2 separate regions of the Homo sapiens genome follow, and region 1 is linked to region 2. The links come from fine-mapping of genetic effects on plasma protein levels. Region 2 holds a variant in brackets. A gene starts in the other region. All regions are shown on their reverse strands.

Region 1 (5,326 bases), not on the chromosome of region 2:
TCTGAAGAAGATCCACAAAGCCTGTGGAGAGGAGGCCCACAGCTCTCCAGGATGCATGAGGAGGGGCCACCAGGGATGGCCACCCCAGCGACCCCCATTTTCCCTCTTGGCCCATGGGAAATCCTAGGAGGCAACATAAGCCTGTGGCAGCCCCTCCACAAAGCCCTGCCTCCAGAGTTCCCATAGGCGAGAATGTGTCCTCAGTGGAGCATTACCTTGCACAGCCTGTGAAGTGCTCTGTGCGGGGATAAAGGCAAGTAACGTGGGGTCCTCTCTCAAGGAATTGCTAGCTTATGGGGAGAGAAAACTAAACGTGGAAGCCCCAACAGTGTGACAAATGCCCCATGAATGGCAGGCAGAAGTTAGAGTATGAAGGGGGCCCCACCTCAGGAGGTCGGGGAGTGTGGCGTCAGCCACTGCCCCATAGCAGGATGTGTGCAACATCTGCCACTGGTACTCAGCATCTGCCACCTCGCTGACCCTCATTTGACCCTCCCAGGCAAGTGCTGTGATGACCCCCTCCCTGGTGAGGAGCCGGCCAGGACTTGGATCCAAGAAGTCTGGCTTCAAACCCCATGCTCTGACCGCTCGATGGCACCGCTTCCTTGGCAGGACATCTACAGCTCCCAGGGCACCCAGGGGACATCAGCCTCTGAAAGGGGAATGGTCAGACCCGGGAGGCCTTGAATGCCATGCTAAGGAGTTCGGACTTGACAAGAGGCAGCAGCAAAGGGTTTTGATAACCTGGTTAGACGTGCTCTGATTTATTGTATTTCACTGCTGCAAGATTTACTGGACAAAGAGGAGGAGGGGGAGAAGACAGTGAGTGCAGTGAAAGGTGTCTAGAAGCCCAAGCAAAGGCCAGGGGTGGGGCGTAGAGAGGCAATGGAAAGGCACCCAGACACCCAGGCTTCCAGCCTGAGCGCGGAGTGCATGCAGGCTGCGCGGTGGCCGCCCGGGTTGCAGGGAACGCGCGGGCCAGCGACTCTGCGGTGCTACCCCGTGCCCGCACTCACCCAGGACGGCGCAGACCAGCAGGGCTCCCACGGCGAGCCTCATCTTCCGGGTGCGGCGCTGAGCAGCGAGCACAGTCGGACTCGCTTCTGTGCAGCCTCCGGCGCCCCGCGTCCCTTTATTCCATTCCCGGCCTGGGCGGGCTGGGCGCAATCTTTGACCTCCCGTGTTTGTGCAGCCGGGTTGCCCAATCGCCCCTCTCCCAACCCCCCTTCCTTACTCGTCCCACTGATCACCTCATTTTCTGAGCTCTGGAGACGACCCGCGAGTGGAAGGAGTCCAGCACAGAAATGTTGATGGGAAGGGACATGAAGCACAATGCAGCCATTGTCATCGCGGCTCGCTCGGTGCCAGGAGCGGCTACGGCGGGCTGGGAGCCGGGGGGCTCTGCTCCTGACTCCAGGGCTGCAGAGCTGGTCCGTGCCACCAGTCCTATCTGCGCAGTCCACAGAGGAAGACTCCGAGGCTGGAGAGGGAAAAGAACTGCGCCCAGACCCCACACTAGAACTGCAGAATGACAGGCAAAGCCCCTTTTGGGGGAGGATGCAGGAGAAACAAGCTGGGCTCAAGGTCAAAGACAGACTCAGCACCTTTTGCTCCCCACCAGGTGTCCCTCGAAATCCTGCTCCTGGGCTCTCAAAGGTCCCCCACGGAGGAGCTGCTCCCTCTTCCTGCCCCGCTGAGCTCAGGCTCCTGGGCTGGAAAACTTCCCGCCCTCAAGCTTCCTGTGGGACACCTTAGACTAGGGACAGAGTCATAGGGGAAGATGAACTCCCTCCAACAAGAAGGTTCCAGGAACATGGTCAAGACACTGTGAGGCTCAGAACAAAGTGTCATCTTAGCACAAAGCAAGCGGCCCAGTGGACGGTGTGGCCTGTTCTTACAGCCTGGGGCCACCATGTCCCCCTCTAGTCGATGAGTCTCCTAACCAGTTTAATTACACATCCTTATCATGAAAAATATTGAACTTGTGCCTTCTATATGCTTATATTTTAACTAAAAAATGTGTACACTTCAATCATGCACAAGGAATAGAAATTTGTAAAAGGATGAGCTAAAGATGAAACTCATTTTCAAATGTCGTTTTGCTTATGCGGCCTTATACAGGATTATTATCTCAAGGCATAATATACTTGGGGAAAGGTCAAGATTCCTTCCACGAAGTGTAAATCCAGACTTCAGAGATTTTGCCAAAAGTTACTTCTTATCCAACCTGACCAGATGGTCATTCATTCTGTCTCATGTTTTAGTTGACCAAGCTCATATCAAGCCTAGTGGACACGTCAGGTCAGTCATTTGATTTTTGTTCACTTGTTTTTGTGTTGTCAGAATTGTCTCCTAATTCTAGTTTCTTTGTAAGAATCTTTTTAAGGCATGTGTGCATCTCGTGAAGGTTGGAGTTAAAGCCAGATTATCTAATCTGTACATCCGTTTAACTGGGCACATACAAACCACAAAGTATGGAAATAAAAATGCCAAAACAAAGGGCAGGGTCGGCACTCCCCTTTTCACCTTTAGCATTGTGAGGTGAACCCCATCTTCCCTTAGGACACCTGAAAGGCTCCATCTGTCATGACTGCAGACTCAGGTGGGAGATAGGGCCAATTCACACATTCAATATGAATGAATGATAATTTGTTAATCTTTTGCAATAACAATAAATATAACTGGAAGTTAGATTATGTTCTCCCACACTCCAAAAGATTATCTCATATGCAAAGGGGTTACATACCTCCCACTTTAGAGTCCACTACAGAAGCTTTCTGTTTACAGTGAGGACAGAAGTCAAGTCTGGCTTTCCCAACACATCAGCCTCACCAGCGAGGGAGAGTGACCACTGCTGCCCTGTCTTACTCCCCCCTTGCCCGTCCACGGGCCCCTTGTGCTTGAGCCATAGGGAAAGAAGACTGTTAGCATGAGGGCCATATTCCTACTGCCCCTGCAGCAGGCTCTAGGCAGTGGTCTGGATTCATTTGGAGACCTTGAGGTAAGGATGTGAGATGAGCAGGAAAAGTCAGGGGCAAGGCTAACTGGAAGGCACCCAGCAGAGCAGCATGCACACATACAGCTGATGCATGGACAGGCCCTGTAGTAAGCTTGCAGGGTCTGCCAGAGAGCAGGAAGTGCAGTTACGAAAGGTTGAGCCCATGCCACAAACTCAGGGAAGCTCAACGCAGGGCATGGAAAGAAGATGGTCAGTGATTCTCCTTTTCTGGAGCCCATCTACATTCGTAGACTAAGCCCCGCTGAGGCCAGTCCTCCAGCCACAGGCCCATAGCCTAGCCAGAGCCCCTCAGCAGGGAGCAACTACCTACTGGCCAGGCTGAGTCCTCTCCAGAGCAGCCAGCTCTATGCCCTGTCCTCAGAAGGGTCCTTTGAGTCCAAGCCCAAGACAGGTGCTGGGAAGGAAATATACAGCCTCATGGGATATGAAGGAAGCTCAGACAAGACATAGAGAACTGGTGCTCCCACGTCATCTACACACACCTAGATGGAGAGGCCAGGGCCTTGGCTTTTGCTCAAGAGGACAACAGCAGAGCTTCGTGCTTGCCATTCCTTGGATGGGGTAGGCAGGGGTGAGGCCAGCTTTGGGGTGTACATGTGTGCATGGCCCTAGCTGTATGGGGTGCCTATGCCTGTATATGTCTATAGGAGCATGTGAAGGTAAGAGGTTAACATTACAGCGCTCCATGTCCATGACACTTGTACCTGTGCTCTCATTTATATTCTTTAATTCTATACCAGAGATGTTCTGGAGTTGGAGAATCACTGTCCCTTTTAATAGCTTAATGATGGCTGAGATTTACTGGGAGCTTCACTGAGCACTTACCATACCCCTCTGACTTTGGTGCTTTAGCATCTGTATCTTACAGATGAGACAAGGAAACTGAGGACAAGAGAGGATGATATCTTGTTCAAGGTCAGCTGCAAAGTCAGAATACAAAAGAAGGCAGTCTGGTTCCAGAGTGTACACATCCACCAGGGACACTGCCTCTCCCAGGAAACCAGGACATGCAGGGGCCAAGGAGCTCATCTGGGGTCACACCGAGAGAGGGACAGACATGAGACTCCCAGCCTTGCCATTTCTCCAAAAGCACACAGCCCCCAGGGCTTTGCCAGCACAGGGGCTGGTCAGTCTGGGAGAGGTCTGAGTACCAACTGCAGATCCTTAGACATGGACTGGCTTGATTATGCTCAGCTGGAAGAAAATATCATGTTTTTATCCCCTTGTATGTGTCAGGCACTGTCCTGGGGCAAGATCATTGGGGCAGCCATGCAAGATAAGATCAGTACCTCCATTTATCACATGTGGTCATTACAGTCAAATGATGGGTCCTTATTCATGGAGCTCTGAGACCTGAACTCAAACTTCCTAAATCTTGCCCTTCTCCAGACCACAGCTGCCTTCTTGATATTGACCTTCTCTTTATTTATTTAGTGGGGGAGGAAAGAGAGGGAGGGAGGTGAGAGAGAAAGAGAAAGAGAAAGAGATTGATAGAGGACATAAAGGAAGCTTCCAGTTCTAGACCAACCCAAGCATGAGCCAAATCTTTCACCGCAAACAGGGCAAAACTCTCAAATTTCAACCACGAGTTGGCCCTTAAAGAAATAGCTGCGCTTGTGTGTACGTGCAGGAAAGCTGGAAAAGCTGACCAGCAGGAGGTGGGTAAGAAAGCAGTGGGCCTCTGAACCAATATTTGTTGTTTCCAAATGTTGCCCAGTTGACACAGAAGCAAAGCAAACAAAGAGCCTCTGTCTGTTTTGAGCAGTTCCTCCTGTCCCCCACCCAGTGTCCTCTGCCTGACACCAGAGACTTCTCTAAGTCTGGGTCATCCTTGAGAAGCAGCAGCCTGGCAGCCTGAGAACCGACATTCACGAAATCAGTCACCCTGCAAGCCCGCTGGGTCGGGCTGTATGGCTAGGGGGTTGGGGACTGGGCAGGGTACTTTTAGGAAAATGCCAGGCATTTTGAAATGCCACATGACACCACTGCTCACTCGCTCTCACTCTCTCTCTCTTTCTCTCTCTCTCTCTCCTTCTCTTTCCCTTTCTCTATCTCTGTTCTACCTCTCAGAAGTCCTTGGACAATGAAGATTCTCAAGGTTTCCATTCTTTTCACAGGGGAGTCTGCAAAAATACCTGTCTCATGAAGAATAGTCCAGGGCCAGGTGGAATGAATTCCATCAAACATTTAAGAATTACAGCGTGGGGGTGGTGGCTCATGCCTGTAATCCTAGGGCTTTGGAAGCCTGAGGCAGGAGGATTGCTTGAGCTCACGAGTTCAAGACCAGCCTGGGCAATATAGTGAGAA
Region 2 (5,377 bases):
ATATGCAGTTCTCATCTCTGTTCTTTTTCTGGGTTGATCCTTATATTTCTTAAAGCACATGGCCAAAACTACAACCAAGTTTCCATGGAAGAAAGTGTCATAGTTTTATAAATCATTCTAATGCATGTGTGTGAGTTTTTAATTCTCTTGCTATATTATGCCCAGCATTTGCTGGTTTGTTGGCCATAATGAGATTTTTTTCAGTTTGATGTGTCTTTTAGATTCTCTTTAATAGTAGTTGCTTGGAATCATAGGAGAAATTTGGTCAGGATAATCCGGAAGTTTGAAGTAATGGGCAAAAGCACTCAAACTACTGGAGAGAGTGATGAATGAAGCAGACAGGAGGTGATAGAAAGGAGCGGGGTTGCAATCTGAAAAGAAGCTTTTGAGAGATCAAAAAACAGGTCAAGTCACAGGATAGGGAGCGTTGGTTAATTGACAAGATGAAAGGCTTATGATTCTAGAGAAAAAGCAGGAAGTTGGCACGAGGTTGATATAATGAAGGTAGAGTTGTACCTTTTAATAAGGTCCAAGGTTCTTTCATTCAATGAGTGGCCACTGTGGGATGGAGTAGGAGGTCAGGATGATCAACTAGATAGAACTTGTGTGGTAGGGAATAGAAGAATGGTTCTCAACGCTGACTGCACATCAGAACCACCTGGAGAGTTTTAAAGCCTATCAAGGCCCAGGTCCCACAGGCCAATTCAATCAGAATCTGGAGGTGGGGCTAGGCATTGGCAGGTGTGAAAAATCACCGAGTGATTCTTGTATGCAGCCAGAATTGAGGACTCTGGATTTGAACAACTGTTTGCACCTGCAGAAGTTTTTATACTCTTGCTGCTCTATCAGGCCTTATTACCCTTTACCAATTAAATCAGACGATTTGGGGGTAAGATTTTGGCTCTCTGTCCCCATCCAAATCTCATCTCGAATTGTAATCTCCCTGTGTCAAGGGAGGAACCTGGTGGGAGGTGATTGGATCATGGGGGCGGTTTCCCTCATGCTGTTCTTGTGCAAGTTCTCATTAGATCTGAGGGTTTAAAGGTTGAGGCTTCCCCTACTTGCTTGGCGTTCTTTCTCCTGATGCCTAGAAGGTGTCTGCTTCCCTTTCATCTTCTGCCATGATTGTGAGTTTCCTGAGGCCTCCCCAGCCATGCAGATCTGTGAGTGAATTAAACCTCTTTTGTTTATAAATTACCCAATCTGAGGTAGTATCTTTATGGTAGTGTGAACATGGGCTAATATAGTAAGATCTAGGCAAAAGCCATTTAAAAAATTCCCCAGGTGTTTCCAACCTGCAACCAAGTTTAGGAACCACTGGGTTAGAGGGATTGTATCCTGTGATCTACTATGTACCATGAATAAAATGAAATTATATTGTATGATAGCCCTTGTATATTAAAATAATACTTTGTTTTGAAGTTTAATGCACAGAAAGGAATCCAGATGCTACTCTTTGTCTTAGTTTTGTTTTTTGTTTTTTTTTTTTGAGATGGAGTCTCACTCTGTCTCCCAGGATGGAGTGCAGGGGCACGATCTCGGCTCACTGCAACCTCGGCCTCCAGGGTTCAAGTGATTCTCCTGAGTAGGTGGGGTTACAGGCGCCCACCACCATGCTCGGTTAATTTTTGTATTTTTAGTAGAGACGGGGTTTCTCCATGTTGGCCAGGCTGGTCTCCAACTCCTGACCTCAAGTGATCCACCCACGTCGGCCTCCCAAAGTGCTAGGATTACAGGCGTGAGCCACTACACCTGGCCTGTTTGTCTTACTTCTGATGGTTTAGTGCACCCTTCTAATTTAAGAAAATGAGAATGACAGAATTTTGAAAAATGGAGGAGGCCTTAGAGAAGAAGTCACGACCTCTTTTTTTACATATGAGAAATAAGGGGCCCAGAAAGGATAATTTAATTGTCCACAATTTCTTGGGTGGTTAATAACAGAATAGGGTCCCCTGACAGATCATTTTCAATTTTCTTTCTACTCCTCAATGCTGGCTTCATTACAACTCTTAGTTTTGAAGTGATAAACTTTAAAAGGGATATGACTTCATTTATAAAATCTATGGAGTACATGGACAGGGTGAATGTGAACTTGTCCATAAAACTCTAGAACACTAGAAGTAAAAGTTGCCCTCAAAGCCATGAAAAAGTTTATTTTAAAACAAGTAAATTAAACTACTAAAGTATCCCTTAATACCAAACATGGCATTTAAATTAGTGACCATGAGAATCTTTCAAGCCAAAAGAATGGCCACTGGGTAGCCATTCTATGTACGTAGGAAGGCTAAAAGTTTTGGGGTCTTCAGACCTGGGAAAATATGTGAGTTTCATAAGGTCACATGCTAGACTATAAAAGGAAATTTTGCAATCAGTACTTAAGCTCTTAATCATGTGGCTCACATGTTTTCATACTCCCTGAGTTGGTTAGTCCAATTCCTGACCTAGCCAACCTAGAAGAAAACAGAACAAAAGCAGGTCTCTATTGGGAATAAAGTTAACTGCGTATGATTATATTCTGCTTGTTAAATATGCACACTTCCTTGTGTATTCATGGACTTTGGTCGCAGTAAATGATCTTTGCAAAAAATGTCCTGGACACATCCTACTTACACTGAATGACATTCTTTGAGAGGCAGGTTGCTAGTTGCCAACTACAGTGCTTTGTTTCCAGCTGTTTCCCAGCCCATATCTTTCCATTGGCTGTGTTGAAAAGACTAGA[G/A]CATGCTGATGAAGCCTAAAAGCAACTCCAAGGAGGGGAAGTGAATAGATTAGATCATAGAACTTGATTTAGAAAGGTTTCCGTGGGCTGAAATGGGCAGCAAAATCTAAGCAGATGCAATTCCGTGGAGAGAGAAGAGAGGTATAAGTACTTGAACACAGTACATCAGTAAAGGGGGGGAACACACTTGCCTTATGGTATTTGAAGGGCTGTTATTAAAAGAGAGTTTCTAAGTCCAAAGTCCATAGACCATTCATAGGCCTTCAGAACACTGCAATTCCGCAAAGATTGTACAAGTTTTTATTCATGTCTAAATTTTTTTTTCCTGGAGATAAGGTCTGTCATTTTTATTAAATGCTCAAAATAAGAAAAATCAGATTAAACCTAAAAGTTATTAACTAGGGAAAATAAAAGGCAGCTACAGATAGATTTAGTTTCAATGAGAGGAAGAAATTTCTGACATTTAAAGTTGTCCAAACATGGAATGAGCTACCATGGGAGGTTTCAAATTTCCAGGCCATTTGGCAAGAATATCATAGAAGGTATTTAAGCAACAGTGAGTGGTGAAATGTGTTTACATTTCTATAAAACAAACAACTGTGTACATGGAGAGAATGCCTCAGTAAAATTAATGTGAATGCTGGTAGAGTTAGGAATTCTCAGAGCACTGAGGCCCTGAACCAAAAGACCACAAGTGATGACAAGAATTGTGGCTAGTTGGGGGATTGGGGGTACATTTGCCTCCTTTGGGCTGATCCTGGTTATTGATAATTAGACAAAAAGACACCCTAGTGGTTTCATTTTGTCTTTGCACTGTTGGAGGACTTGCTCTACACCTGGGTCATTTATGGTTATCTAATAGATACAGCACCCACAAACAGTTACAATGGGGAAGTTGGTAGAAAAATCAAGGGTGAGAGTATAGTGGTTAAGACCATGGACTGGGGAGATAGGCTGGCTGAATTTCACTCCTGCCTCTTTTTACTAGCTGCGTGTGACCTCGAAGAGGCTGTATAGCCACTCTGTGCTTCATTTCCCCAGATGTGAAATGAGAATGACAGTAGTACCTACATTATAGATTGGAAAATAAATACAAAAAATCATGTAAAGAATTAAAAACCATGCTCAAGAATGGTTAGCTATATGACTGTTGTGGTTTCTAGTTATTGAATGGAGATATTTGAATTATATTACAAACTGTCATTTATTTGCTGTATGATGTAGGGAAAATGCCTTATCTCTCTGGCTTCATGCTTCCCATCTATAAAATGGTGAACACATTTACGCTGGATGGAGATAATATCCAATTTAGTACTGGCTTTAACAACTAAAAGAGTCAAAGTACCCCTAAAGGTCTTACTTAGAAAGCAGAGTTTAACAATGATTTTTATAAGTTTAGGCTTATAGCAGCACATTAATTCTTAGTTTGGGAGCAGTGCTTTAGCTTAGATTTTGAAATCATCAGCAAAGTGTACTATCTGCACTATCATCAAGTTTTGTCAGAGCCTCACCCATGTTTTAAATCTGCTGTCTCTAGAACTCTACCCAAAACTTTTTATTAGAACGTCTTGAGGTATATTTTGTATCTGAAGATTTCAAGGGCTTCACAGTAATTCCTGAGTTGGCCCCTATCTAGAGCTGCGATTCCCAGATCTAGAGAGTTCTGCCTCCCAAGCAGTGGGAGCCTTGGACACCTCCTATCTGATGACTGATCCTCCTCTGCTTGAATCTTTTGGAAAAGAGAGCACTTGCCAGTTGACTAGGGAGTTCATCACACTTTATAGTCTATTTAAAGTTTTCTTTTCTTTTCTTTTTCTTTTTTTTCTTTTTTTTTTTTTTTTTGAGACAATCTCGCTCTTGTCCCCCAGGCTGGAGTGCAATGGTGTGATCTCGGCTCACTGCAACCTCCGCCTCCTGGGTTCAAGCGTTCTCCTGCCTTGGCCTCCCGAGTAGCTGGGATTACAGGGGTCTGCTACCACACCCAGCTAATTTTTGTATTTTTAGTAGAGATGGGGTTTCACCATGTTGGCCAGGCTGGTCTTGAACTCCTGACCTCAGGTGATCTGCCCACCTCGGCCTCCCAAAGTGTTGGGATTAGGCCTGAGCCACTGCGCCCGGCCTATTTAAAGTTTTCTTTTCATCTTAAAATGCATTGTATATATGTACTTAATGTGTAAGAATGTATAAGTCATTAGTTAATAACTGATGCAGCTTCACATTAAGCGCTTTGCTTTTAAATTTAACTTCAAATGCTAAATTAGTAGCATGGGCAAACACACATCAATAAAGTCTATTGGTTTGGACTCTGCTATTTTGAAGTTCGTCATAATTGGCTAGACTGCTGTGTACATTTGCTAAATAAGTTGTCATCTTTATAACACAGATTAATAGCATGCCTAAACATTTAAGAGGCTTAGAAAGAACTGCTTTTAAGGACCTTGAAGTACTGTATAAACAACTACTGAAATGCTAATTATAATTTAGTCTTATCTATTTATCACATTTTTTTCTTGAGAGGAGCCAGAGACTGAAGAGGTTGACATGGTCAACCTTCAAATCTGGGTTCCTGGCATTCCTTGAAAAGAATGATTTTATCAGGTACTTATCTCCTGGCCAGGCTTTTGGGTTTTCGTTTTTTTGTTTTTCTCATCTGCCTGT

Direction of the effects. Alleles are on the strand shown, and positions count from the first base shown. The strength of an association depends on the size of the effect and on how common the allele is.
With allele A in place of G in region 2, the plasma level of the protein whose gene starts at base 1,107 in region 1 is higher (weak association).

What was found. A credible set is the group of variants that fine-mapping cannot tell apart. PIP is the posterior inclusion probability: the model's chance that the variant is causal. Protein levels are from antibody-based Olink assays in UK Biobank. Linkage for the fine-mapping came from a reference panel and not from the study's own genotypes, which makes the PIPs less certain.
Region 1: TF starts here. The variant in region 2 is the best candidate, but not a certain one, in a credible set for the plasma level of the TF protein (UK Biobank, PIP 0.82).

Annotation. Positions count from the first base shown.
Region 1 is chr3:133,742,174-133,747,499 of GRCh38, reverse strand. TF (transferrin) reads right to left here and starts at 1,107. Exons shown (of 17, transcript NM_001063.4): 1 at 1,017-1,107. The coding sequence starts at 1,059.
Region 2 is chr2:189,520,104-189,525,480 of GRCh38, reverse strand. No RefSeq gene overlaps it. Among named protein-coding and RNA genes, the nearest start is that of SLC40A1, 58 kb to the left of the region's middle. The variant G/A (reference allele first, on the strand shown) is at 2,720.